7 linked regions of the Homo sapiens genome follow. The protein of the gene in region 6 interacts with the protein of the main gene of each other region in a biochemical or structural test. Each region holds a gene or a part of one and is shown on either strand. Other genes may lie near its edges. The genes, in order: NPM1, KAT2B, HIPK2, METAP2, POU2F2, HMGA1 and RCC1.

Evidence for each region.
Region 1: the proteins of HMGA1 (region 6) and NPM1 interact in far-western blotting, tested with the Homo sapiens proteins (2 studies listed by BioGRID).
Region 2: of the proteins of HMGA1 (region 6) and KAT2B, one has a biochemical effect on the other in vitro, tested with the Homo sapiens proteins (one study listed by BioGRID).
Region 3: of the proteins of HMGA1 (region 6) and HIPK2, one has a biochemical effect on the other in vitro, tested with the Homo sapiens proteins (one study listed by IntAct).
Region 4: the proteins of HMGA1 (region 6) and METAP2 interact in far-western blotting, tested with the Homo sapiens proteins (one study listed by BioGRID).
Region 5: the proteins of HMGA1 (region 6) and POU2F2 form a complex in vitro, tested with the Homo sapiens proteins (one study listed by BioGRID).
Region 7: the proteins of HMGA1 (region 6) and RCC1 interact in far-western blotting, tested with the Homo sapiens proteins (one study listed by BioGRID).

Annotation. Positions count from the first base shown.
Region 1 is NC_000005.10:171,394,349-171,397,848, reverse strand, and holds part of NPM1 (nucleophosmin), read right to left. Parts: intron 1-3,500. UniProt on the Homo sapiens protein: Involved in diverse cellular processes such as ribosome biogenesis, centrosome duplication, protein chaperoning, histone assembly, cell proliferation, and regulation of tumor suppressors p53/TP53 and ARF.
Region 2 is NC_000003.12:20,123,946-20,127,445, reverse strand, and holds part of KAT2B (histone acetyltransferase KAT2B), read right to left. Parts: intron 1,542-3,500; coding exon 1,333-1,541; intron 24-1,332; coding exon 1-23. UniProt on the Homo sapiens protein: Functions as a histone acetyltransferase (HAT) to promote transcriptional activation. Has significant histone acetyltransferase activity with core histones (H3 and H4), and also with nucleosome core particles.
Region 3 is NC_000007.14:139,561,070-139,564,998, forward strand, and holds the end of HIPK2 (homeodomain-interacting protein kinase 2), read right to left. Parts: 3' UTR 501-3,929; downstream 1-500.
Region 4 is NC_000012.12:95,494,652-95,498,151, reverse strand, and holds part of METAP2 (methionine aminopeptidase 2), read right to left. Parts: intron 3,196-3,500; coding exon 3,014-3,195; intron 2,149-3,013; coding exon 2,054-2,148; intron 1-2,053. UniProt on the Homo sapiens protein: Cotranslationally removes the N-terminal methionine from nascent proteins. The N-terminal methionine is often cleaved when the second residue in the primary sequence is small and uncharged (Met-Ala-, Cys, Gly, Pro, Ser, Thr, or Val).
Region 5 is NC_000019.10:42,115,447-42,118,946, forward strand, and holds part of POU2F2 (POU domain, class 2, transcription factor 2), read right to left. Parts: intron 1,987-3,500; coding exon 1,804-1,986; intron 1,560-1,803; coding exon of another isoform or gene 1,263-1,559; intron 1-1,262. UniProt on the Homo sapiens protein: Transcription factor that specifically binds to the octamer motif (5'-ATTTGCAT-3'). Regulates IL6 expression in B cells with POU2AF1. Regulates transcription in a number of tissues in addition to activating immunoglobulin gene expression.
Region 6 is NC_000006.12:34,235,451-34,239,672, reverse strand, and holds the start of HMGA1 (high mobility group protein HMG-I/HMG-Y), read right to left. Parts: upstream 2,801-4,222; 5' UTR 2,792-2,800; coding exon of another isoform or gene 2,710-2,791; exon of another isoform or gene 2,470-2,709; coding exon of another isoform or gene 2,356-2,469; intron 2,259-2,355; coding exon of another isoform or gene 1,293-2,258; intron 883-1,292; exon of another isoform or gene 716-882; intron 1-715. Other genes in the region: translation initiation factor IF-2-like, read right to left, coding at 1,293-2,258, 2,356-2,469, 2,710-2,791, 2,943-3,098, 3,417-3,427. UniProt on the Homo sapiens protein: HMG-I/Y bind preferentially to the minor groove of A+T rich regions in double-stranded DNA. It is suggested that these proteins could function in nucleosome phasing and in the 3'-end processing of mRNA transcripts.
Region 7 is NC_000001.11:28,512,543-28,516,042, reverse strand, and holds part of RCC1 (regulator of chromosome condensation), read right to left. Parts: intron 1-3,500. UniProt on the Homo sapiens protein: Guanine-nucleotide releasing factor that promotes the exchange of Ran-bound GDP by GTP, and thereby plays an important role in RAN-mediated functions in nuclear import and mitosis.

The sequences.
Region 1 (3,500 bases), on a different chromosome or scaffold from region 6:
GCACTCAAGCCTGGGCAACAGAGACTTGTCAAAAAAAAAAAAAAAAGAATTCTTGCCAGGCACAGTGGCTCACAGCTGTAATCTCAGCAGTTTGGGAGGCAGAGGGAGGTGGATCACTGAAGACAGGAGTTTAAGAACAGCCTGGCCAACATGGCAAAACCCCTTCTCTACTAAAAATACAAAAATCATATCAAAAAGAAAAAAGAAAAAAGAATTCTTACAACTTAGTAAAGACAAAGAGAAGTAAATGGATTTAAGTGGGCAAAAACATTTCTCCAAAGATATATGGCCAATGAATACATGAAAAGATGCTCATTATTAGTCCACAGGGAGACGCAATCAAACCCACAATCAGCACTTCATACCACCAGGATTAGAGTCAGATAATGGCAAGTGAGGGTGTAGTGAAATCAGTAGGTTGGAGTGAAATCAGAAGCCCCATACACTGCTAGTGGGAATACAATGGGTGAGCCACTCTGCTTTAGGTGTACATCCAAGTAAAATGACATGTCTACAAGCGTTCATAGCAGTCAACAAGTAGAAGCAACTCAAATGCTCACCAACTGATGAATAACCAAACATACCCATACAATGTATTCAACCATATAAATAAATGGAGTACTGATAATGCTATAACATGGATGAAACTTGAAAACACTGTGCTAAGAAAACAGTCACAGAAGTCCATTCGTGCAAAATATGAGGGACAGGAAACCTATAGACAAAGTTCATTCGTGGTTGACTAGAGCTGAAGAGCATGAGGGGTAATACCTATAGAGTACGATTTCTCATTGAGGTGATGAAATGTTCTAAAATTGATTATGGTGATGGCTACACAACTATGCATACTAAAACCACTGAACTGCACACTATTTTTTTTTGAGTTTTACTCTTGTTGCCCAATCTGGAATGCAATGGTGCGATCTCGGCTCACTGCAACCTCCGCCTCCCGGGTTCAAGCAATTCTCCTGCCTCAGCCTCCCCAGCAGCTGGGATTGCAAGCGCCCACCATCACACCCAGCTGTATGTTAGCAGAGACGGGGTTTCACCATATTGGCCAGGCTGGTCTTCAACTCCTGACCTCAGGTGATCTGCCCGCATCGACCACCCAAAGTGCTGGGATTACAGGTGTGAACTGTTAATAGGTAAACAATGGAGGGGAGTAATCAAATCGAGTCACTGGAGGGCAAGTCAGGCAGAAGTCTCTATTAGCAAATACCAAGGGGTTCACGTTTAATTCAACAACTGAACGTACTGGTCTCTAAATCCCAATACAGCAACTTCATGTAAGAAACACCTATCTTTCCAATACCGAAGAAATATTTGCTGTATTTAGAAAAAGTATCATAACTTAAAAAGCTGTCACAAATAGCCCTTCAAGTGGCTTTTTAACAGTGATTTTGTCAGTACAAGTTTCTGGCATTAGAACCCAATCCCTGCAGGTGCCTCCCCTGTGCTAGAAACAAGATGAGAATGCTTTTTTTAAACATTTTTTCTTATTTGTTAAAACAAGTCTATTAAACTACTATCAAAATAGCTATCAAAACTACTATCAAAACAGCTTTACTGGCAGGGTGTGGTGGCTCACACCTGTAATCTCAGCACTCTGGGAGGCTGGGGTGGGCAGATCACCTGAGGTCAGGAGTTCAAGACTAGCCTGACCAACATGGCGAAACCCCATCTCTATTAAAAATACAAAAAATTAGCCTGGCATGCTGGCACATGCCTGTAATCCCAGCTACTTGGGAGGCTGAGGCAGGAGAATCACTTGAACCCGGGAGGCAGAAGTTACAGTGAGCCATGATTGCACCACTGCACTCCAGCCTAGCCAACAATGCACTTCAGCCGGGGCAACAGAGACTGTCTCCAAAAAAAAAAAAAAAAATTCAGCTTTACTTAAGAAATTCCCCAAAAATTAAAAAAGACATTTAAGGGCCACATACTATCAACGTATTACATACATCTATGTATAGTATACATCAGCACTATGCACATTACATAGCCTTTCTTGCTTAAATCAAGAGTCATCTGAGCCCACACCATATACCCATTCCATCCTCAAAAAGGAACCAAATTCCCCTTTGATCTGTGTTCAAAAGGTTAGATTTCTAAGTAACTATAACGAACCTTCATGCACCTCTTTGCATTTTCATTGCCATCTATCTATGCTGGGCCCTTGCCATCTCACCACTGAAGTTTCTATTAATATTTGTTTCCCTCAAGGCATCCTTTACTACTATGCAGACCTTAGTACACTTTCTTCAACTTATATGAAAACTTGCGGCGGTGCATGGTGGCTCACGCCTGTAATCCCAGCACTTTGGAGTTCGAGACCAGCTTGGCCAACATGGTGAAACCCCGTCTCTACTAAAAATACAAAACTTAGCCAGGCGTGGTGGCAAGTGCCTGTAATCCAAGCTACTCTGGAGGCCGAGGCAGGAGAATCACTTGAACCTGGAAGGCAGAGGTTGCAGCGAGCAGAGATCATACCATTGCACACCAGCCTGGGGCACAAGAGCGAGACTTGCCGAAAAAAAAAAAATCCCACAAAAAAAACCAGGTACTGATTTGGACCTTGATATCTACACTTTTCATTCCTATCAATGCCCAACTTAAAGACAAACAAAATTACATTGTGGTTACATCATGAATTTATACCCATTTTTCTGAGATGGGAGTCTCCCTCTGTTGCCCAGGATGGAACACGGTGGCGCATTCTTGGCTTGCTGCAACCTCCACCTCCCAGGTTCAAGCAATTCTCCTGACTCAACCTCCTAAGTAACTGGGACCAATAGGCAGGCACCACGATACCCAGCTAATTTTTGTATTTTTAGTAGATACCGGGTTTCACCATGTTGGCCAGGCTGGTCTTGAACTCCTGACCTCAAGTGATCCACCCACCTCAGCCTCCCAAAGTGCTGGGATTACAGGCGTGAGCCACCATGCCTGGCCTAATTATATCAATTTTTAAAAAAGGAAATCTTCCAAAGCCCCAACAGGGTCAATACTACAATCAGGTCCTACTCCAAAGCCTTTCTGGAAGGGATTGCTTGTCCCCGAGCCTCGGTGAATGCTATTAAACACTTATTTTATAAACTTGTACAAAGGTAACTCAAAATCAGACTAAACCAATCCGAACCATACCATCCCTATTTCTAATTTGTGTTTTTAGCCTGTTTCCCATTCTTCTCTTGGAATGTATTTCAATTCTTACTAACGAGAAATATTCTTAAAAGTGATAACCAAACAAGCTGGGCTTGGTTATGCTCCTGTAACCCCACCTGCTTCATAGTCTGAGAGGGGAGGATAGCTTGTGCCCAGAGATTCAAGTCCAGTCTGAGTAGCATGGTAAAACACCATCTCAAGAAAAAAAGTGGCCGGGCACGGTGGCTCATGCCTGTAATCCCAGCACTTTGGGAGGATGAGGTGACCAGATCGCCCGAGGTTAGGAGTTTGAGAATAGCCTAGCCAACGTGGTGAAACCCCATGTCTATTAAAAA
Region 2 (3,500 bases), on a different chromosome or scaffold from region 6:
TTAAAGCAAGGGTTTTGTGTTTCCTGAAAGAATAAGATTATGTCAAAGTTTTACCTATCCTAGTTATATAAATATACTTTTTGGGGTGTTCCTTATTAACCAACTAAGAAAGAGGGACATGTCCTAAGTTTCTATAGAAACTTCCTTCATGTAGCCCCTATCTCGCTAGACCATCCTTTTATCTGAACTTTTTAGAGCTAGGTCGCCTGCACAAGATGTCATCAGCACTCCCATCAGAACAAAATACCAGTCACCTAAGAAGTGCCTGAGGTTTACAAATAGAGAACAGAGTATGTGCAGAGGTGCTCTGGAACTGGCACAGCCAGTGCCAAGGAGGGGTCAGGGAGAGCAGGAAGTCATGGACAAACATGGTATGTGTCTCTGAAGAGTTAAGTCTTACTCCAAAATATTACAGAAACATTATGAAAAAGAATTTAAAATTTACATATACAATTTGCAAAATTCCGCATTATGGAATCCTTCCCTCTGTCTAAAGCATCACTCTGAATTGTCACAGGCATGGATCACAGTCCCCATAGGCTACTGGGCTATGTATGTTAAAATAAATTCAATTAGAGAAGTTTAGTTCTTTAGGGTTTCGTGGGTTTTTTTTTTTTTTTTTTTGAAATGGAGTTTCGCTCTGTTGCCCAGGCTGGAGTGCAATGGCACGGTCTCGGCTCACCACAACCTCCGCCTCCTGGGTTCAAGCAATTCTCCTGCCTCAGCCTCCCAAGTAGCCGTGATTACAGGCATGTGTCACCAGGCCTGGCTAATTTTGTATTTTTAGTAGAGACGGGGTTTCTCCATGTTGGTCAGGCTGGTCACAAACTCTCAACCTCAGGTGATCCTCCCACCTCAGCCTCCCAAAATGCTGGGATTACAGGCATGAGCCACCATGCCCGGCCTAGTTTTTTGTTTTTTTTTTTTAAGCAATGGATTTTCAAAGTTAACCTGTCTTATATCCCAATAATTGCCCACAGACCTGGGCAATAATGGCACCTAGTTAAGATACCAAAACCAATATTTTGATTATGAAGAAAGCAGAACATCTTAGTGTTACATTCTCTCACTGCTATAAAGAATGAAGCACAGGAGAGTCATCAGCAATGTAAAATATAAAGTTTCATCATCATTAACAAGAAAATTTGTAAATTGTTGAAAATTACTCTTAGCACTTTCAGACATGAAAATCAGCTTGGTGAAGCTCTGTATCCACAGCAAGACAGGTGCAGTAGTATTCGGTGGATGACTATGGCTGACTTTCACTATCTAAGCAGTTCCTCTTTCATTTAAAAAGGAAATAAGGAAGAAGGAACAGAAAGTACCACTTACGGGTCAAAGACGAGCCGTGTGATGTATTCTTTTGGCATTCGGGGCAGCTGGTGGGAGAAAACGTTCTGTAGGCCAACCAGCCACATCAGGATCTTCTTGTTTGGTTTCTGGTTGAGGGAATTGCCAACCACGTGAAATTCAATTACACCCCTGCGCTCTTCCAACCTTGCCGCCTCATCCCTGGCCGAGTGTGCTGACAGAAAATTGGTCTGAGATGCAAGAGACAGGAAAAAATTACACAGAGCTATTCTCTCAAGACAGTGGGGATGGGACACATCCAAGCTTCTCATCTTTGTTCTAATAAGATACACATTTGTGGATTTTCAGAGTCCTAAATACACATGTGTGCACACATACACACAGAGACACATACACATACAAGTTATGAAGACAAGACAGAAAAGGCAGGTAAAGCATTTTGAGAAATTGGAGTATTATATGTGTACACGGATGATATTCAGTGTAGATTAGGGGCCAGCAAAGTTTTCTGTGAAGGGCCAGATAGAAAATATTTTAGACGTTGTGAGCCATAAGGTGTTTGTCACAACTACTCCTTCTTCTGCTATAATGCAAAAGCATCCACAGACAATATGTTAAAGAATGGGTGCAGTACTGTTCCAATAAAACTTTATTTAAAAATACAGTAAGCAGACAAAATGTGGCCTGTGGGTTATAGTTTGCCAACCTCTGGCTTCAAGGAATCCTCTCCAGCTGAGCTTTAAGGACCCTTGAGATGACAGATTCAAATTCTCATTACAGGCCCAATAGTAGCACTCATGTATATATTCTTTTTTTTTTTTTTTTTTTCTGAGACGGAGTCTCGCTCTTTCGCCCAGGCCAGACTGCAGTGGCGCTATCTCAGCTCACTGCAAGCTCCGCCTCCCGGGTTCATGCCATTCTCCTGCCTCAGCCTCTGGAGCCTGCCACGGCGCCCAGCTAATTTTTTGTATTTTTTAGTAGAGACGGGGTTTCACCGTGTTAGCCAAGATGGTCTCGATCTCCTGACCTCGTGATCTGCCCGCCTCGGCCTCCCAAAGTGCTGGGATTACAGGCTGAGCCACCGCGCCCGGCCTCATGTATATATTCTTAACACCTCTTTTTAAAGAACAGTTTTCTTTCCAGAGAATATCTGTTGACCTACACTCAACCATAGCTGGAAGCACAACCATGTGCCAGCACTTATGCTCCCCATCTTATTTAATCTGCCTAGTGGTTTGCAAGTAGATGCTCCACAAACAGCTCTTCAAGGAAGGAAGGCCCTAACTGGTGACACTTCATCTCATTAGTCCAGAACTGGCTATCCAGGTAACCAGGTGCCATGCTAGTCAACTTCAAGCTACCAACATATGGAACAACCAGCTCACAAAACTCCTGAAAATTTAACAATTTTCTTGTGCATTCCAGTACAAGCCAGCTCTAGTACACTACTAAATATTAATATATCCAAAATATTTTCAAACATGTGACTGCATCCTGATGTAGTTTGAATGTGTGACCCCTCCAAATCTCATGCTGAAATGCAATCTCCAATGTTGGAGGTGGGGCCTAGTGGGAAGTGTTGGATCATCAGGGCAGACCCCTCATGAATGGCCTAGCACCATCCCCTTGTTGATGAATGAGTTATTGCTCAGTTAGTTCATATGAGATTTGGTGGTTTAAAGGGGTCTGGCTCCTCCTCCTCACTCTCTTGTTCCCTCTCTCACCATGTGATGTGCCTGCTCCCACTTCACCCTGCACCATGAGTATAAGTTCCCTGAGGCCTCCCCAGAAGCTGAGCAGATGCTGATGCCATTCTTGTACAGTCTGTGGAACTGTGAGCCAATTAAAGCTCTTTTTTAAAAAAATAAATTACCCAGTCTCAGGTATTTCTTTGTAGCAATGCAATAGACTAGTACAAATCCCCATTTTATAGCTGAAAAAAACCTAAACTCAGCTAATCTGTAATGTTACTAAATCCCTAAAAAACTATAGTCTTAAGCCCTCACAGACTGGACATCTAGGAGGAAATGGAAAGATCAATTTTAGGAAGAGATTTTTCTATTACAACATTCTGGTTCTCTGAAGTATCCTCAATGTCATAAAATAAATATTTAAAGAAACATGACAAATTGAAAATTAACACTGTAATATAATCTCCAAGCCATTTCTTCATTTCCTGGAAGCTGTCA
Region 3 (3,929 bases), on a different chromosome or scaffold from region 6:
GCCCCACTCAACTGCATGGGAATTGGTAGTAATGTGATCTCAAGGCCCCCCACCTCTCTCTGCAAATGTTCAATGCAGTGGTGGCTTCTACACATTTCCAGAGCCATTAAATAATCTCGGCCCGGCGCAGTGGCTCATGCCTGTAATCCCAGCACTTTGGGAGGCCGAGGCAGGTGGATCATCTGAGGTCAGGAGTTCGAGACCAGCCTGACCAAAAAATGGAGAAACCCCATCTCTACTAAAAATACAAAATTAGCCGGGCGTGGTGGTGCATGCCTGTAATCCCAGCTACTCGGGAGGCTGAGGCAAGAGAATCACTTGAACCTGGGAGGCGGAGTTTGCAGTGAGCCAGGATCGTGCCATTGCCCTCCAGCCTGGGCAACAAGAGCAAAACTCCATCTAAATAAACAAACAAACCCCAAATATGTTACTTGTAACAATAACCTCTTCGCTTTTATGACAGGTCTGGTTCCAGGATAAATAAGCATGCCAGGCAGGTGTACAGTGATTTCAAACAGTTTAATGTAATTCCAAGACAAAGTGTGATTACATTTCTACACATATACAATATGCATATGTGAGTTTACAAATTTTAATTAATAAGTCATTTCACCTCGGAGACCGAAAAAATGATCAAAAAGAAACTATGAGTAACAAGCTATAACATAGTTCACCACAATGGGACCCCCCCCCCTTTTTCTCACCCTACAGTTAGTAATATTACAATTAAAATAACTATATTCTTCTATATTTTTTCTGTTAAAATCATCTCATAAATTTACAATGCTATTATTAGTTTCCAAGACTAATATAAATTCACTCCATTTTTCTACAACGAAAATGATTAATTTAGAAGCACACGACGTCATGATGAAAAACACAAGCATTTTAGTAGCAAGGACTTGATCAGTTAAGAATTAGTTTTCTTGTAAAACATTCTAAAGCCAAGTAAAATATCCATTCTTATAACATACCTATAATATGAGACTAAGGAATAGGTTACATATAGGTCTACAACACATTGGTTTGTCTTTAAAAAAACAAAAGTAGACATTTATAAATAAAAAAGAGGGACAATTCACATAGGAAAAAGAGGTACACGAGAAAATACTGTTGCACGCAATAATTTTCACACAGATTAACATGGATTAACACTTTTTATTACAGAAACCGTACGGTGAAGGAACACAACAGACCAGGGCTTTCATAGGGTTATTGAGATTGAGCTGAGATGACCTGGGAGAGAAAGATCTAGGTGAGATGACCCTGGGGAGGGAGCCACGTTCCTTGGACCTGGTGACTTAGTGTCGCCGGGTCTCCTCTTCCCTGTTCTCATTTTGGGGAGTGAGTCTTTCTATCCAGTGTCCTGAATTCATGAGCAGTTGAAAGGTAAACATTTCTGCAGATCCATTCTCTTTCTATCCTAATGGATACCATTTTTGGAAACGTGACAGAGTATCAGAGGCTGCAGCTCAGTACACGTGGTCAAAGCAAAACGGGATGGAAACTTCCAGTCACTCTGATTTGTTGCCCCCGTCACCCACTGATGCGCTTGAAGCTGGGACCCAGTGAGACAGCAGCAGCACCCTACAGGGCCTGCTGGCTCTGCCGTGGTGAGGTGGATGACAAGGGCCCGGCGCCACGCCTCAGCCCCATGTGTGCGGAGTGGCCTGGGACACAGCCCATGCACGTCCAAGACACCAGTCTTGACTCCGACCTCTAAAGAGCTCCTTCTCCTCATCTGTAAAGCTATACTTCTCCTATCCAATTTGGTTTGATATATATACACAAACATATATATCAACATCTATCTCTATACAGTGATTCTACTAAATTAGAAATTCTGCTGCCCCAAAGTATGACTTTCTTGTCTATTTCATTTGGTTAAAAAAATGCACACACAGAGGATGAAGAGATGATTTGGGGGCTAGAGATGACTGTGCCCTGGAAAGTCCATGGAAGAAGCTTGAAGTGAGCAGGAACACAAAAGGGAGGAGAGCAGAAACGGGGGACCGACTGACTCAGGGCAGCGCTGACGGGAACATCTGCTTGGGGTGGGGCGGGGCGGGGGTGTGCTCTCTGTTCCATTTGTTAGTTACAGGAAGCTACCAAGGATGCACATGGTCAAGTCACTTTCTACTTCCCAAGTTCCTCCTTATAACCTGAGCCAAACAATTTCAACAATGACAATCCATTGCCCCTTCAGCCCAGCAGGCGACTCTGACAGGGAGGTGTGACCACCAGTCTCAAGGCTGAGTGGGGCCTTCTTGCTGGCTCTCGCGCTTTCTGGGAGTCCTGGGTGCCTTGGCCCAGGGCAGTGGTGACAGCAGGGTGGAGGCAGAGGTGGCCCCGGGGACAGTGACCCTATATAAGGAAGGGGGCGGTGCCAGGAGAGATTCGTTTGGAGATTGGTTACAAGGAAGCGAGGGAGAGCAGAGGCAGAGCCCTTTTTCAGATACAACATACTTACTTTTCAAATGAACAAAAGGCAATTTCTATGTTTTAAAAATATAAGCCCCAAAAACAATGACACAAAATTCATTTGGTTAATTCATGTAAAGGAAAAAACAGCAACACCACCACACAAACAGGAAAGTGGGAGTATGATTAGGAGGGGTGAGATGAAAACTATTTTACAGTAACATTTCCACCAAAAGACTGTCCTAAGAACACGCTGTCAATACAGTTCACAGGGAAAAAGCAAATGTGGTATTTTTTTGTATTTTTTAAAAGCTCCCTGGTCCCAGGTGTTTTGCAGTTTTCAAGGTCTTATCTGCTAAAGGAATGCCCTTTAGGTCACAGCAGGTCCTCTGCAGTTTGGTGGTGGCACAAGAGAAAACATAAAAGAAACCAAGACTCAGGGAAACTGCCATTCCCCCAGTCTGTTTCTGCATGACAGTGGGGCCCATTCCTGTCTCGAAGCATCTTCTTGTTCCAAATATGATGTCTGTTTAGAGTGGGTCTCAATGGACCAGGCTGAGCTGCCCCTCTGTCTCTGCCTCCTCCTGCTCAGCCCTGACCATCTCTGAGAGGATGCTAAGGTCCCCCTCCCACCGAACTAGACTTTGAGTCTAAGCTGGACAATGAGTAAAACGTAAACATAGCCTTTTACATTGATTTTGCTTTTAAGGGGAAAACGAATAAATGACAGCAGATATATGGAAAACCCAGCCAGCGACCATGGGAATAGGGGTATATGGTCCTCCCCTACAAAACGCTGATCAAAATATCACCCCCGGCCCAGAAGTAGCAGCTGTGCCTTCATGGTCACCTGAATCCCAGTCTCTTCTACTGCCTGGTGCCTGGAAATCAGTGGATCTATTAATAAGTTAAATATTCAAATCAAGACAAAAATCAATGAACCAGGTTATCTGTTCTCAATGACTCTTCCAAGATGTCAGAGAGAAGGCCTTGAAGACAAGTGTTTAGACGACACGCATGAGACCTTCGCATCTGGCCCGGGCTGCGGACTCACACCTTTTCCCTCCATCTGGATTGCCTTTCATGTTCTCTTGAGTTCACGTGGAAAGTAATAATCCAGAGGGAAGTGCGCATGCTGGACTACAGAAGAGTCTGGGACAACACACTTGCCTTGGGGGAGACACAACCTCCAACTAAGAGGCATTCACTGGGGTTTGCGGATGTCAGTTATAAACAGAACTTTTCTTTAAAAAGTACCAGTCTAAATGTAAACTATAAAACACTTTAACTATAAAACGTAGCCAGAAATATGCTTAAGTATCCACAGTCAATTGTTTAGTTTACTCATTTAAAATGTGACTGTTTTGATAGCTTAGAAGGCTAACAGCATTTTACAGTAGCTAAAAACATATATACTTAACATGTGCATTTGAACATCGCATTTGAGTACAACACACAAAGAATAATCTCTTCCTTGGTTTAATTTTTGTTGTAAAGATGAGCTATTT
Region 4 (3,500 bases), on a different chromosome or scaffold from region 6:
ACTGTTTTTTTTTTTTTTTGAGATGGAGTCTCGCTCAGTCGCCCAGGCTGGAGTGCAGTGGGGCGATCTCGGCTCACTGCAAGCTCCGCCTCCCAGGTTCACGCCATTCTCCTGCCTCAGCCTCCTCAGTAGCTGGGACCACAGGCGCCCGCCACCACACCCAGCTATTTTTTTTTTTTGGTATTTTTAGTAGAGACGGGGTTTCACCATGTTAGCCAGGATGGTCTCCATCTCCTGACTTCGTGATCCACCCGCCTTGGCCTCTCAAAGTGCTGGGATTACAGGCATGAGCCACCACATCTGGCCTACATTTTTTAATTAAAAAATAAATAAATAAAAATGGGCAAAAAACTTGAATAGACATTTCTCCAAAGATTAAAAACAAAAAACAAACAAAAACTACCCAGAAAATAGTGTTGGCAAGGAAATGGAAAAATTGGAGCCTTTCCTTGCATACTGTTGGTGGGAATGAAAATGGTACAGCCACTGTGGAAAGTAGTAGAGAAGATACTCAAAAAGTTTAAAAAGATATAATTACCAGATGATTCCCAAATCCACTTCTGGGTATATACCCAAGAATTGAAAACAGACCTTGAAGAGGTATCTATACACCCGTATTCATAGCAGCAATATTCACAATAGCTAAAACATCGGAGCAATCCAAGTGTCTATCAGTGGATGAATGGATAAGCAAAAATGTGGTATATACACACAATAGATTATTTAGCCTTAAGGAAGTAAATTCTGACACATGCTACAACATAGGTGAACCTTGAGTACATTGTGCTAAGTGAAATAAACCAGTCACAAAACAACAAACACTATATGAGGTACTTACAGCAGTAAAAATCATATATAGTAGAATGGTGGTTGCCAGGGTAGGGGGAGAAGAGGAAAATGGGAGTTACTGTTTAATGAGTATAGAGTTTCAGTTTTATAACATGAAGAGTAAACAGAGAAGAATGGTGATAATGGCTGCACAATATTATGAATGTACTTAATACCAATGAACAACATACTTAAAAATGGCCAGGCGCGGTGAATCACGCCTGTAATCCCAGCACTTTGGGAGGCCAAGGCGGGAGGATCACTTGAGATCAGGAGTTTGAGACCAGCCTGGCCAGCATGGTGAAACCCCATCTCTACTAGAAACATAAAAATCAGCCGGGAGTGGTTGTGCGTGCCTGTAATCCCAGCAACTCGGGAGGCTGAGGCAGGAGTATCACTTGAGACCAGGAGGCAGAAGATGCAGTGAGTCGAGATCGTGCCACTGCACTCCAGCCTGGGCAACAGAGTAAGACTCCATCTCAAAAAAAAAAAAAAAAAAAAAGAAAGAAAAAGTTAATATGGTAAATTTTATGTAATGTCTATTTTAACTGCACCTCCCTCCAAAAAAAAAAAAAATTTGAGTGGGTGGGGAAAAGCTGGGCTGTACCAGAGTTTGGTGGACAGAGAGGGATGAATCAGTTGAGCACAGAAGATTTTGGTGGCTATGAAAATACTCTGTATGATACTATAATGGTAGATGCGTGTCATTATATATTTGTCAAACCCCTTATGTATATTACTAAGAATGAACCCTAATGTTAACTATGAACTTTGAATAATTGTGATGTGGTCAATGCTAGTTCAAATGATTTTAACAAATATACCTATGTGGTGGGGATGCTGACAATGGAGGAAATTGGGGAGGGGTGGGTATAAGGGAAATCTCTGTACTTTCTGCTCAATTTTATTATGAACCTAAAATTGTTCTAAAAAAGAACCACAAAAAAACCACTGCCAACTGACAGGCAAAAATAGATCCAAACTCTGTTTTAATAAATTTTAGCAAAGTTCAAGGGAAACAAACAAACAAACAAAAAAACAACCTTTGGTACACAATCATACACTTACCCGCTTAAAACCATAAGGGAAATGGATCAATTTTATTCCTCTTAATTACCCAAAGCCCTTAAACAGGCCTTAAAAGTGCTTAAATGCTGTTAAGTGTTTAAAAGACCTTAAAGTGCTCAAAATATTGGGAATGAAATGGTGCTTACAGTTCACATACCTTTATTCCAGTGTTAGTAGCATCTTTTACAGCTTTTAATAACGTATCATATTTGGGATTAAAAGTGACAGTAAAAGCACAGTCAATAATCCTACCTGAAAGAGAAAATTCCTCTTTTAATTTTACTTATCAGCTAGTCAATTTATCTACTTTACAGCATTTAATCTATTAATCTTGCTAGTTTAACAGAAAAATAGAATGAAGGCTCAAATGAAGGCTGCACTCCAAATACCCAAAGATCATTCATAATCAAAGAGACAAAATGTAGAAGTATATAAAGGATTCAGAATAGAAAGAATTACAAGGTTAGTATATATTACCCCAAGACAGCACCAGTTCAGTGCTCACCCTGGCAGTTATACAAACATATAAACAGAAACAAAATGAATACAAGAAAAGACTAGGGAAATGAGAAATAGTAACGCAGGGCAGAGAAAGTATACAGGGCTCTGAATATACTTTTACTTTTCCAAGGTAGTGAAACCTTAGGCAAGTATTTATTCTAAGCTTGCTTTCTCACTTGTAAGTAAGATAACAAGGTGCTTACCTAACCAGGTTTTGGAGAGAATTCAGAAAAGCAAACATGTATATTAAGGCTGATAAACTTAAGTATTTTAAATAAATGTTATTATTTGAATAAAAGAGATATGAAACAATGACCTAAAGAAAGGTAGGATAATGTCTTTCATGCCTTGATACAAAGGGTAATAAACCTCAACTACCCAACAGTTTTCATTTTATTCTACTTAGTAGTATGCTTTCAAGTAAATGTCACAACTGCCTCTCTCTCCTATAAGTGCACTAAAATTTTTTTAAAAATCTGCCTCAACACACCTTTCCTAATGAAATGAGGAAGCAAGAACAAAATTTGGGAGTTCAGTATTTATCACTCCATTTAACAGAGACAAAAACTAGTTTTTCAGGAGGAGGCTGGGGTAGGAATTTTCTGCAAGAATTTACCACTTATATGTGTTCCAAAGTCTATTTTACAGATGTCATCATACTGTAATACTGTTGTGTCACCGGCATTGGGAGTATAATGGGCAGCACAATTATTGAGAGAACATCCAGTAGGAAATGCCAGGCCTGCATTTAATCCATTCTCTTTTATTAACTTGCGTGAACAGTCTTCCAACTTTTCACTAAAACAAAAAAGCAAAGGGAACTTGTTTACTTTTACATTCTTACTTTTATATATTAATACCATATAGTTCATCAAGTCCAGAAAGTTTACTAAAAACCTTAAATACCTTCTGGGAATGATCTGAGCACTTTCTGAATATAAATAAATAACAGTTCTCTGATGCTATGAAAATAGCATATCTTTAGAAGACAAGGAATTTGATTCTGCTAGAAAGTCAGAGAAACACAATCCACTTTTAACTAAATTTACTAGAAAATAAGAGTCTAACTTAGACCAATTTAAATGCTGATCTTATTTGTTCAT
Region 5 (3,500 bases), on a different chromosome or scaffold from region 6:
AGTCACTGAGGGAAACGCCAGGCTAAGGGAAGTTAAACAGGTGGCTTTGCTGTAGGGCTTCCCACGACCTTCACTGCCCTGAAACTTGGCCACAGCTCTAAGGCTTATGAAAACCAGACAGACAACATGAATGGGTGAAAACCAGACAGACAACATGAATGGGTGACATGGGAAGGGGTGGACAGGAGTGGGCTGGAGACAGCTGCCCTTCGGAAGAGGAAGCCTACTCAGCTCCCACTCTGCTCCCCCGGCTGTCCTTATGGGAACTCTGTTGGCCACTGTTAGGGGTTAAATTGTGTCCCCAAAAAGATATGTGGAAGCCCTCACTCCTGGTACCTGTAAATGTGACCTTATTTGGAAATAGGGTTGCAGATGTAATCAAGTTAAAATGAGGTCAATGGGGTGGGCCCTAAACTAATGACTAGTGTCCCTACAAGAAAGAAAAATTTGAATACAGAGACAGGTGCACAGAGAGAAGATGGCCATGTGACGACAGAGGAGGCAGAGATTGGAGTGAGCCATCTACTAAGCTATGGAACACCAAGGATTGACAGCACCATCGGAAGCCAGAAGAGGCAATGACAGATTCTCCCTGGGAGGCTTCAGAGAGAGCACGGCCCTGCCGATACCTTGAGTTTGGACTTGTGGTTGGAGACAATATGTTTCTGTTGCCTTAAGCCACCCAGTTTATGGTATTATGTTACGGCAGCCCTAGGAAACTGAGACAGCCACTAATTCATGATTAACTATGGACCAGCAAAAGCTCCAGAGTCAGGGAGGTGATGGAGAACCTCCTAATTCATAGATCACGGGCCCCTTTTTTGAAAGAGCATCTTGTTGGATAAGCCAGGGGACACGATGAGGGTAGGGCACTCATTCTTATTCTTAACCTTTTGTTTTGTACCCACATGGTACCATTCACGAGAGTGACTCCTGGTTTCCTTACCTGTATGTTGAGGACAACAATCTCAACCTCCCAGGAGGCTGTGAACTCCCAGCGAGATGCACAGGAAGCACTGCCCCCAACACACCACCAGAGGGAGGATTATGATGTGGGATATTCCTCCCTGTGAGCCTCACTTTACCCCTCTGTAAGATGGGACAGCAACATCTTCCAAAGCTTCCTAGGGTTGCTAGGAACTGCCTGGCATGTGGCTGGTGGTCAGAACAGTCCATGTGGACCAGTCAGCCCCTTCCCACACACTCACTGTTTCTGCATGTCCTTCACTGCAGGGAGCCTGGTCCCCAGTGGCTGCCCTTACCTGTGCTGTGAGCTGGATGGGTTGGGACAAGGTGAGCTGTGGGGTCCCAGGGGGCTGGCTGGCAGGCTGTGGTGGTGGCAGGTCACCCCCCCCAGAGGAGGCTGGGGGCTGTGAGGTCGAGGAGGAGGCAGAGGAGGAGGAGGAGGAGGAAGTAGAGGAGGAGGCGGAGGCGGCGGCGGCGGCGGCAGCGGCGTTAGCGGCAGCGGCGGCACTGGACTGCTGCACGGCGGCGGCCAGGAGCTGGGCCTGGGCTTGCTGCAGGAGGAGCTGCTGCTGAGCTGGCATCAGTGCCGTGAGCTGCGGGGTGTCGGGGACAGCAGGAATTGGAGCAAGGGGTTGAAGAGGAGCAGAGAAGGCAGAGAGGGGTTAGTGCCTAAGCCAAGCAAGTAAGGGGACAAGACCTCCTAGAGGACAGAAGAGGGCAAGAGGCAGGTGTGAGAGAGTGGCCATGGCCTTGGTGGAACAGTTCATCCACTAGCCCTGTAACAGATGAGGGGTGGCTGGTTTGTCCCCTCGTCCCCATCCTTCCCCAAGTACTTACCCCAGCTAGCTGGCTGCCCGTCAACATGAGTTGGGCCTGGGGCAGATGAGGCTGGGCCGGCTGAGGGGGCAGGGGTGCTGCTGGGGCTGAATCGCCACTGGGGTCTTCAGCCTTGATCTGGGGGGGAGAGAGGCAGGGTCCGGGACCCCAGAATGTTAAGTGGAGGCCAGAGAGAATGCCCACCTGTGAACCAAAGAGAGGGCACGTGTGTGGCAATGGCAATCAGGCTGGCACAGGAGGAGCAGACTGGGGTGTGGACATGAGGGTGCAGTCTGTGGTCCTGCACTGACCGCTGGGAGCTTCAAACCACTCCTCTGGCCTCAGTTTCCTCATCAATCAGATAGGGCTAACACAACACCTGCACCCAAACTCCCTACAGAAGTCGCCTTTGCAGAGCACTTTTCCCCTCCTGAGAGTCAGTTTTCCTGTCTGTAAAATGGAAAAGAGTGGCTGGGCACGGTGGCTCATACCTGTAACCCTAGCACTTTGGGAGGTCGAGGCAGGCGGATCACTTGGGGTCAGGAGTTTGAAACCAGCCTGGCCAACATGGTGAAACCCCATTTCTGAAAAAAAAAAAGGAAAATACTCCCACTGGGCACCTGGGAGGTCAAATAAGTGGCTTCTGGGTCCCACACCCTTCATCTGTATCACACAGAGGTACATCTCTCTTGCTTTTTTTTTCTTTTTGTTTTTGAGACAAGGTCTCACTCTGTTGCCCAAGCTGAAGTGCAGTGGCATGATCACAGCTTACTGCAGCTTCTACCTCCCAGGCTCAAGCAATCCTCCCACCTCAGCTTTCCAAGCAGCTGAGACTACAGGTGCCCACCACACACCTGGCTAATTTTTAAATTTTTCTGTAGAGACAGGGTATCACTATGTTGCCCAGGCTGGTCTTGAACTCCTAGGCTCAAGCGATCCTCCTGCCTTGGCCTCCCAAAATGCTGGAATTAGAGGCATAAGCCACTGCACCTAGCCAGGTACATCCCTTATTTGTCCAATGAAGTAAGACTTTGTTGGAAGAAAAGGTTTTCAGGTACTAAGAAAAACCACCACCTTGGAACCTGGGCTACAAAGTCAGATGCTTACAGAAATGGGCACAAATGAATGACAGGAGTAGGGGTGGATGGAGGTGGGCTGGAGAGAGCGCCTGCCTAAGTGGAAATCTTATCTGGCTCCTACTCAGCTCCTGCTGGCCACTCTTTTCAAAATCTAGAACAAAAATACTGGCATAATAAGCAAAGCACAGCATTTGTCCTGCACTGTGGACAAGCCAGATGTGGCCCAGGAAATACCAGGCTTCAGCCTCCGCTCCTGAGGTCTGCCAAGCCTCTCCATGTCTTTCTGAATATGATATGGACACACCTTGCACCATACACACAGAACAGACCAGCATAGAGCCACCCTGGCCTCCTCCATTCCTAGGTAAAAAGCCAGACAACAGCAGTTGTTGGCTGAAAGGCCTGTTGGCTGAAGCACACACAGTGGTGGGAGAAGGCATGGCCTGATGGATCACACACCCTCAGGCCTAAAGTGGACAGTGAGTTTATCCTTCAGCCTGATAGCCCAACACCATTTTGTAAAAGGAAGTCCAGAGACAGAAAGCAACTTGGGCAAAATGACACAGTGTGTTGGCAGGGGGGTGATATTTGGAATGTGGACAGAGACAAACAGAGGCCAAGGAAAGGCCAAATAATAGA
Region 6 (4,222 bases):
AGATGGATGAGACGCCGGAGGCCTAGGCTACACATTTTTCCAGTAACCAATCCCTGCCTGCCATGGTAAGGGGTGGGACAAGCGGCTCCACTTCTGAACCCCTCTCAATCTGTAAGATCAAGGTAATTATAAGGTACCTGCCTGAACTACCTCCTGACTGCTTCAAGGATCAAACTAGGTAATAGTTTAGAAAAACTTAAAATAATAGAAAGAAATCTTCACTCTAACCAAAATAAGAACTAGACCATTTGAAAATGATTTATGGGCCAGGTGAGGTGACTCATGCCTGTAATCCCAGCACTTTGGGATGCCAAAGCAGGAGGACTGCTTGAGGTCAGGAGTTCGAGACCAGCCTGGACAATACGGTGGGACTCCCATGTCTAATTTAAAAGAAAAAAAAAAAAGAAGAAAAAGAGTTTTTACCCCAATGAGAGGAAAAAAACATTTTTGCAAACTTGTGATTTCTAGAGGGCCCAGGACCTCCATTTTCAAGCATCAAGAGACCCTCCAGACAGCAGGACTTTGGTAATTATTCTATCTTATAATGTTTCAGACTTGGAGACCCTTTTAAACAAGGTGGTTGGTGATTTATCCTGCTCCGTCATTAGTGGCTTGGCCTGCTCTGCAATTACAGGCAGTGATTAGAATCTTATATTACACCACAGGTCCCCCTTCAAACTAAACATCAAAATTAATCAACTAAACGAGTGCTGACCTCATATAAGGTCTGCCTGGGGCCCCCTCATCGAGGGGGTTCCAGTTGGGCGAAGCCAGTCCGGAATCCCAGAGAGCCTGGCCCGGCCTGCCTGGAGATCTTGGCGGGTCTCCCTGGAAGCTCTCATACCATCTGGTGCCTCCCCCCACCTCTTGCTGCTGGGGACCCTTTAATCCCCTCAGCCAACCCCCCACGAACTAAATGAAGGCCCGAGGCCCTTTCCAGTGAGGCCAAGAAACGTTCGTCTTTTCCACCTGTTTCTGAACATCAGAGGCCTGTCTTGGAGGAACTACATTTAGGGCCTAACCCCAATCCCTCACTTTGTAATAAGCCCGCTTGGGCCTCAAGCCTGTCTCCTCCATACACTGTGCATGCAAACTGTGCTCCTCAAATACTTAAGGACTCTGCAGGAAAGGCCCTAGGAAATTATCTTGGGGGTTCCCTTGTTTTCTTCCCCGTCCCCCGTAAAAAAGTAGCCCAGAGAAGCCTTGAGTTGCCTAAGGTCACACAGCAAGTTGGCGAGCAGGAAGAAGTAGGTTCCCGGAGACCCTTTCAACCCGACACTTTGCCTACCCGCCTAGCGGCTAGGGCTAAACCCCCGAGGCATCAGGCTCCAGACCCGGCCCGAGGGTGACTCTGCAAGTGTCTGCGCCCGGCCGTTGCAGGCCGGCCGGCGGGACCCGGGGCCAGGGCGCGCGGGGGGAGGGGCGCAGGCCGCTCCTGCAGGCGCGGGAAAGCAGCGCACCCCGACCGCATGCACCGCCACGCGGGTGCACCCGGCCCCACTTCCTGCCAGAGGGGGCACCCAAGCCCGCCTTGGGGCAGGAAACCTGGCGCGCGCGGGCGCGGGGGAGAGGAAGAAAGCCCCCTCCCTCCGTCCCCTCCCCGCAAAATAAAGCCCCAGAAGAAAATAAAATAGAAACGGGGAGTCAAAGGGACTAGTTCCAACAGAGCCCAGCAAAGCAGCGAAACCAGTTTGTGGGGGCGGAGGGCAGGCCCGGCCCCTGGGGCTGAAGAGGCGCGGGCCAGGCCAGAGGTGGGGTCGGGGTGAAGCCCCAAACCCAGGCCCGCGCTCCGGCCTCATCTGCGGAGGGGGCGCGAGAGAAAGGCCGAGAGGGCGTAGGGCCGAATTTGGGGGTTCCTCCCCATCTCCCTCACTTCCAGAACTTCCCTGAGCTGCGGGGGGCGCCCGACCCCCCACTCTCCTGCCGCGCCGCAGCCCGTGTCTCTCCCCGCCCCTCACCCGGGCCCGGGCTCGGGCTCGGGCTCCGGCTCCAGCGGGAGCGGCCGCCGCGCGAGGTGCGCCGGGCTCCTCCGGGCTCCGCCGGGTGCACAACTCGCGCTCGCCGCAGCTGCGCGCCCCCTCCCCCACCGCGCGCCTTTCCCGGGTCCCCGCCCCCCGCAGGGCGCCCGCGGCGCGGGGGAAGGGGTGCGGGCGTCCTCCCCGCGCCGCCGGGCCCCGCCGCCCGCCCCCGCGCCGCGCGGCCCTCCCCCGCCGCCGGCTCGCGCCGCCCCGGCCTGGGAATAAAGCCGGCGGCGCGCGCTGCAGCCCCGGGCGGCTCGCAGGAGGGGCGACGTGCGGGCGGGGGCGCGGGCGCCCCCCTCCGCCGCCGCCGCCGCGGGCCCCGGGGACGACTCACCGCGAGCTCGGCCGCCGGCCTGCGGTGCGCGCTCCGGGTTGCCGGGAGCGGCGGTGCTGGGCGCTGAGGACCGGCCTGGCTCCGCCGCGGCCGCCGCTGGTAGCAAATGCGGATCTGAAACCGGGAGAGAGCAGAGGCGCTCAGAGACCGCCGCCGCCGCGTGCTCGCCGCCCAGGCCCCCGCGGGGTATTTATGTGTCACAGCCAGGCGGGGGGACAAAAATATTCCCCCTCCCCCGAAGGATGGCGAGGGGCAGGAAGCTGGGCACGGCCCGTGCGCGGCCTCAATAAATAAATAATTTAATTAAATTATAGATATAAAAAAAAGAAGCCACCGGAGCGGCCGCGAACTCACGCCTTCTTGGAGCCGCGCCAGCGCCAGAAATAGCCCCGGCTCGGAGTCCCAATTAGAGGAGCGCAGCACCGGCTCAGGGGAGCTTAAAAAGAGCGACCCAGGGGCAGGGGGGACGGGCCCGCCCGCGCCAGCCGTGTCACTCAGGGGGCGGGGCCATGCAAATGAGCCCGGGGATTTAAAAGGGCGGCCGCCCGCCAGCCGCCGCCGCCGCTGCCGCGCGGGTGGGTGCTGACGGCAGGGAGGGGCGTGTGGGAGGCCTGGGCTGCGAACTCGAGTCGACCGCCCACTCCTCGCAGTCCCGGACGGAGGAGGTGTGGGAAGGCACGCGCAGAGGAGTCACGAAGGAGCTTCTGGCGGGGGGTGGTGACGGGTGGCGGTATCCTTCCTCCCTGGTACAGGGGTCCCAGGGAGAGTCACCTCTAGGGGCTTCCAGGGCGTGTGGGCCCGGCCCCCCCCCCAGGGCGTGTGGGGGTGGACGGGGGTCCACGCGGGCCCAGGGGGTGAAGAGAAACGCGCTCGTTAGAGAATTCCGCGGCCTACACGCCGCCCCCTAACTAAAATAGAGAGATGGTAGATTTCCCCTGGGCGGACAGGTGTCAGCATGTGCCTTTCAGTGTCAACCCGCGTGTGGCTGATTGGTGAGATACAAGTCTTGTGAAATTCAAACGTGAAACTTGTGAAATCCAAAGTGTTTTATTAATGGCCACCAGCGAGCCATGATCAAGGTGGAGCCTTCCAGCGAAACCAACGATTGGCTCGTTGGCAGGTACACCCAAGGGAGGCTTCATACCTTGAGGTGACTTAGATGGTGTTCTGGAGATACGCAGGCCCACTTGGGGACCTGGGCCCTTCCGTTGGGACTGTAAATAAAAATAAAAGGTGGGCCAGAGGTCGCCTGGAAGCGCTTTGAGGGCAGGGGCCGAGCACGCAGGCCATCTCCGCCACGCCTGGCCCGCCCGGCGCCCGGCTTAACAAAGACTTGTTGCACCGAGCGAGAAGGAAGCCAAAGGGGAAGATGGCGGGGAGGGCGGTGGGGGAGGAAAGGGCGCAGGCGGAGCGGCGCGCCCTGCAGGCCGGCCCGGGGCCTTCTCGGGCGCACCTCCCGCGCCCGGTCCCCGAGGCGGCCTTCCACACCTCCTGTGATGCAGGGAATTGAAATGCGCTCCAGTGACACACGGCTGTGACTCATGTTTTTCTCTGCTCCCCTTCTTCCTCCCCGGTCAGCCGAGGCCCTGGCCCAGCCCCCTCCTCAGGGGGCGAGCCGGCGGTGGAGGGGACGCAGGAAAGCCCTGGGCCCGGCGCGGAGGCGGGGTGGGGAGCGGCGGGCTGGGCCTTGCAGTTGCAGGAATGTGGCAGGAATGTTTCCGGTGGGGGTGGGGAGCGGGCGGGGGGTGGGCCCAGCCCCCACCCGTGCGGCGGGAAGCGCTCGGGGCCCGGGCAGCACGTGCTTGACCGGGTGGGGGCGGGGGCGCCTGGGCGGGAAGGCGCCAGGGGCCGGGAGCGCGGGTTCAAA
Region 7 (3,500 bases), on a different chromosome or scaffold from region 6:
CCCAGCTAATTTTTGTATTTTTAGTAGAGACGGGGTTTTACCATGTTGGCCAGCCTGGACTTGAACTCCTAAACGTCAGGTGATCCACCCGCCTCAGCCTACCAAAGTGCTGGGATTACAGGCGTGAGCCACCGCGCCTGGCCATTTTGTGTATTTTTAGTAGAGACCGGGTTTCACCATTTTTGCCAGGCTGGTCTGGAACTCCCGACCTCAGGTGACCTGCCCATCTTGGCCTCCCAAAGTGCTGGGATTACAGGCATGAGCAACTGCACCTGGCCTTTATTTTTATTTTTTTAGTTTTGTATTTGTATTTTTTATTTTATTTTGAGATGGAGTCTCATTCTGTTGCCCAGGCTGGAGTGCAGTGGTGCAATCTCGGCTCACTGCAACCTCTGCCCCCTGGGTTCAAGCAATTTTCCTGCCTCAGTCTCCAGAGTAGCTGGGATTACAGACACGCACCACCATGCCCGGCTCATTTTTGTATTTTTAATAGAGACAGGGTTTCACCATGTTGGCCAGGCCGGTCTTGAGCTCTTGACCTCAAGTGATCCACCCATCTCGGCCTCCCAAAGTGCTGGGATTACACGTGTGAACTACTGCGCCCAGCCCCAGTTGTTTGTCTCAAGAGTCTCACTCTGTCATCCAGGCTGGAGTGCAGTGGCAGGATCTCGGCTCACTGCAACCTCTGCCTCAGCCTCCCGAGTAGCTGGGACCACAGATGTGCACCACCATGCCCAGCTAATTTTTTTTTTTGAGACGGAGTCTCACTCTGTTGCCTAGGCTGGAGTGTAATGGCGTGATCTCAGTTCACTGCAATCTCTGCCTCCTGGGTTCAAGCAATTCTCCTGTTTCAGCCTCCCGAGTAGCTGGGATTACAGGCGTGCACCACCACGTCCAGCTAATTGCCCATCTAATTTTTGTATTTTTGGTAGAGACAGGGTTTCACTATGTTGGCCAGGCTGGTCTTGAACTTCTGAGCCTCAGCAGTCAGCCTGCCTTGGCATCCCAAAGTGTTGGAATTACAGGAGTGAGCCATCGCAACTGGCTGATATGGAGGTTCTGGCTGTAATAATGTACTGTGGGTTTTATAACATATATAAAAGTAAGACACATGACAATATCAAAGACTATATAGTGAGAAATGGAAGAAATATTTATTTATTTTTTCGAGACGGAGTCTCGCTCTGACCTCGTGATCTGCCTGCCTTGGCTTCCCAAAGTGCTGGGATGGATTACAGGCGTGAGCCACTGTGCCCAGCCGGAAGATTGTTTTTTTTTTTTGAGATGGAGTTTTGCTCTTGTTGCCCAGGCTGGAGTGCAATGGCATGATCTCGGCTCACTGCAACCTCTGCCTCCCAGGTTCAAGCAATTCTCCTGCCTCAGCATCCCGAGTTGCTGGGATTATAGGCATGTGCCACCATGCCCGGCTAATTTTGTATTTTTAGTAGAGACGGGGTTTCTCCATGTTGGTCAGGCTGGTCTTGTACTCCCGACCTCAGGTGATCCGCCAGTCTCAGCCTCCCAAAGTGCTGGGATTACAAGTGTGAGCCACCACACCAGGCCGCCAGAAGGTTTTTTTTTTGTTTTTTTTTTGAGACGGAGTCTCGCTCTGTCGCCCAGGCTGGAGTGCAGTGGCGCGATCTTGGCTCACTGCAAGCTCCACCTCCTGGGTTCATGCCATTCTCCTGCCTCAGCCTCCCTAGTAGCTGGGACTACAGGCACCCGCCACCACGCCCGGCTAATTTTTTGTATTTTTAGTAGAGATGGGGTTTCACCGTGTTAGCCAAGACGGTCTTGATCTCCTGATCTCGTGATCCGCCCGCCTCGGCCTCCCAAAATGCTGGGATAACAGGCGTGAGCCACCGGGCCCCGCCTTTTTTTTTTTTGAGACGGAGTCTTGCTCTGTTGCCTAGGCTGGCACGATCTCAGCTCACTGCAACCTCTGCTTCCAGGTTCAAGCAATCTTCTGCCTCAGCCTCCCAAGTAGCTGAGACTACAGGCGAGCACCACCACACCTGGCTAATTTTTTTTTTTTTGTATTTTTAGTAGAGGCGGGGTTTCACCATATTGGCCAGGCTGGGGAAGATTCTTATACTACAAGTGAACTGGTTTAATATCAATTGAATGTGGACTATTGTAAGTTAAAAATGTATAATATGGCTGGGCATGGTGACTCATGCCTGTATTCCTAGCACTTTGGGAGGCCAAGGTGGGAGGATTGCTTGAGCCCTGGAGGTCAAGACCAGCTGGGACAACATCATGAGACCTTGTCTCTACAAAAAATACAAAATTTAGCCAGCCATAGTGGCACATGCCTGTGGTCTTCACTACTCAGGAGACCGAGCTGGGAGGATGGCTTGAGCCCAGGAGTTCCAGTTTAAGGCTGCAGTGAGTCATAATCTTGCCACTGAACTCTGGCCTGGGTGACAGAGTGAGACCCTGTCTTAAAAAAAAAAAGTAAATAGCCTAAACACTCCAATTAAAAGACATAGACTGTCATACTGAAAAACCCAACATGTTACCTACAAGAAATAAAATTTTAAAATAAGGCCAGGCACGGTGGCTCATGCCTGTAATTCTAGCACTTTGGGAGGTCAGGGCAGGCGGACTGCCTGAGCTCAGGAGTTTGAGACCAGCCTGGGCAACATGGTGAAACCCCATCTCTACTAAAATACAAAAAAATTAGCCAGGCATGGTGGTGCATGCTGTAGTACCAGCTGCTCCAGAGGCTGAGGCATGAAAATTGCTTGAACCTGGGAGGCAGAGGTTGCAGTGAGCTGAGATCGCATCACTGCACTTCAGCCGCGCAAACCCCATCTCTACTAAAAATACAAAAAAATTAGCTGGGCGTGGTGGTGCGTGACTGTAATTCCAGCTACTCCGGAGGCAGAAGTTGCAGTGAGCTGAGATTGTGCCACTGCACTCTGGCTTTGGCAACAGAGTGAGACTCTTGTCTAAAAAAAAAAAAGAGGCTGGGCGCGGTGGCTCACACCTGTAATCCCAGCACTTTGGGAGGCCGAGGCGGGTGGATCACAAGGTCAGGAGATTGAGACCATGGTGAAACCCCATCTCTACAAAAAATTAGCAGGGCATGGTGGCAGGCACCTGTAGTCCCAGCTGCTGGGGACGCTGAGGCAGGAGAATGGTGTGAACCCAGGAGGCGGAGCTTGCAGTGAGCCAAGATTGTGCCACTGCACTCCAGCCTTTGGAGACGCAGTCTCCAAAAAAAAAGAAACTAGCAAGGATAGATTTGAACAACACTAATACAACAACAATAATACACTTTCAAGTAGCCCATAGATCAAAGAATAGAAAAGGAACTCAAAAATATTTTGAAATGAATTAAAATGAAAACAAAACATACCAGAATTTGTGTGTTGTTAACAGTATCTGGAGGAAATTTATAGCACTAAATGCCTACATTAGAAAAAAAGAAAGGTCTCCAATCAATGAGCTCAGCTACTAGCTTAAGAAACTAGGAATAGATGAGCAAACTAACC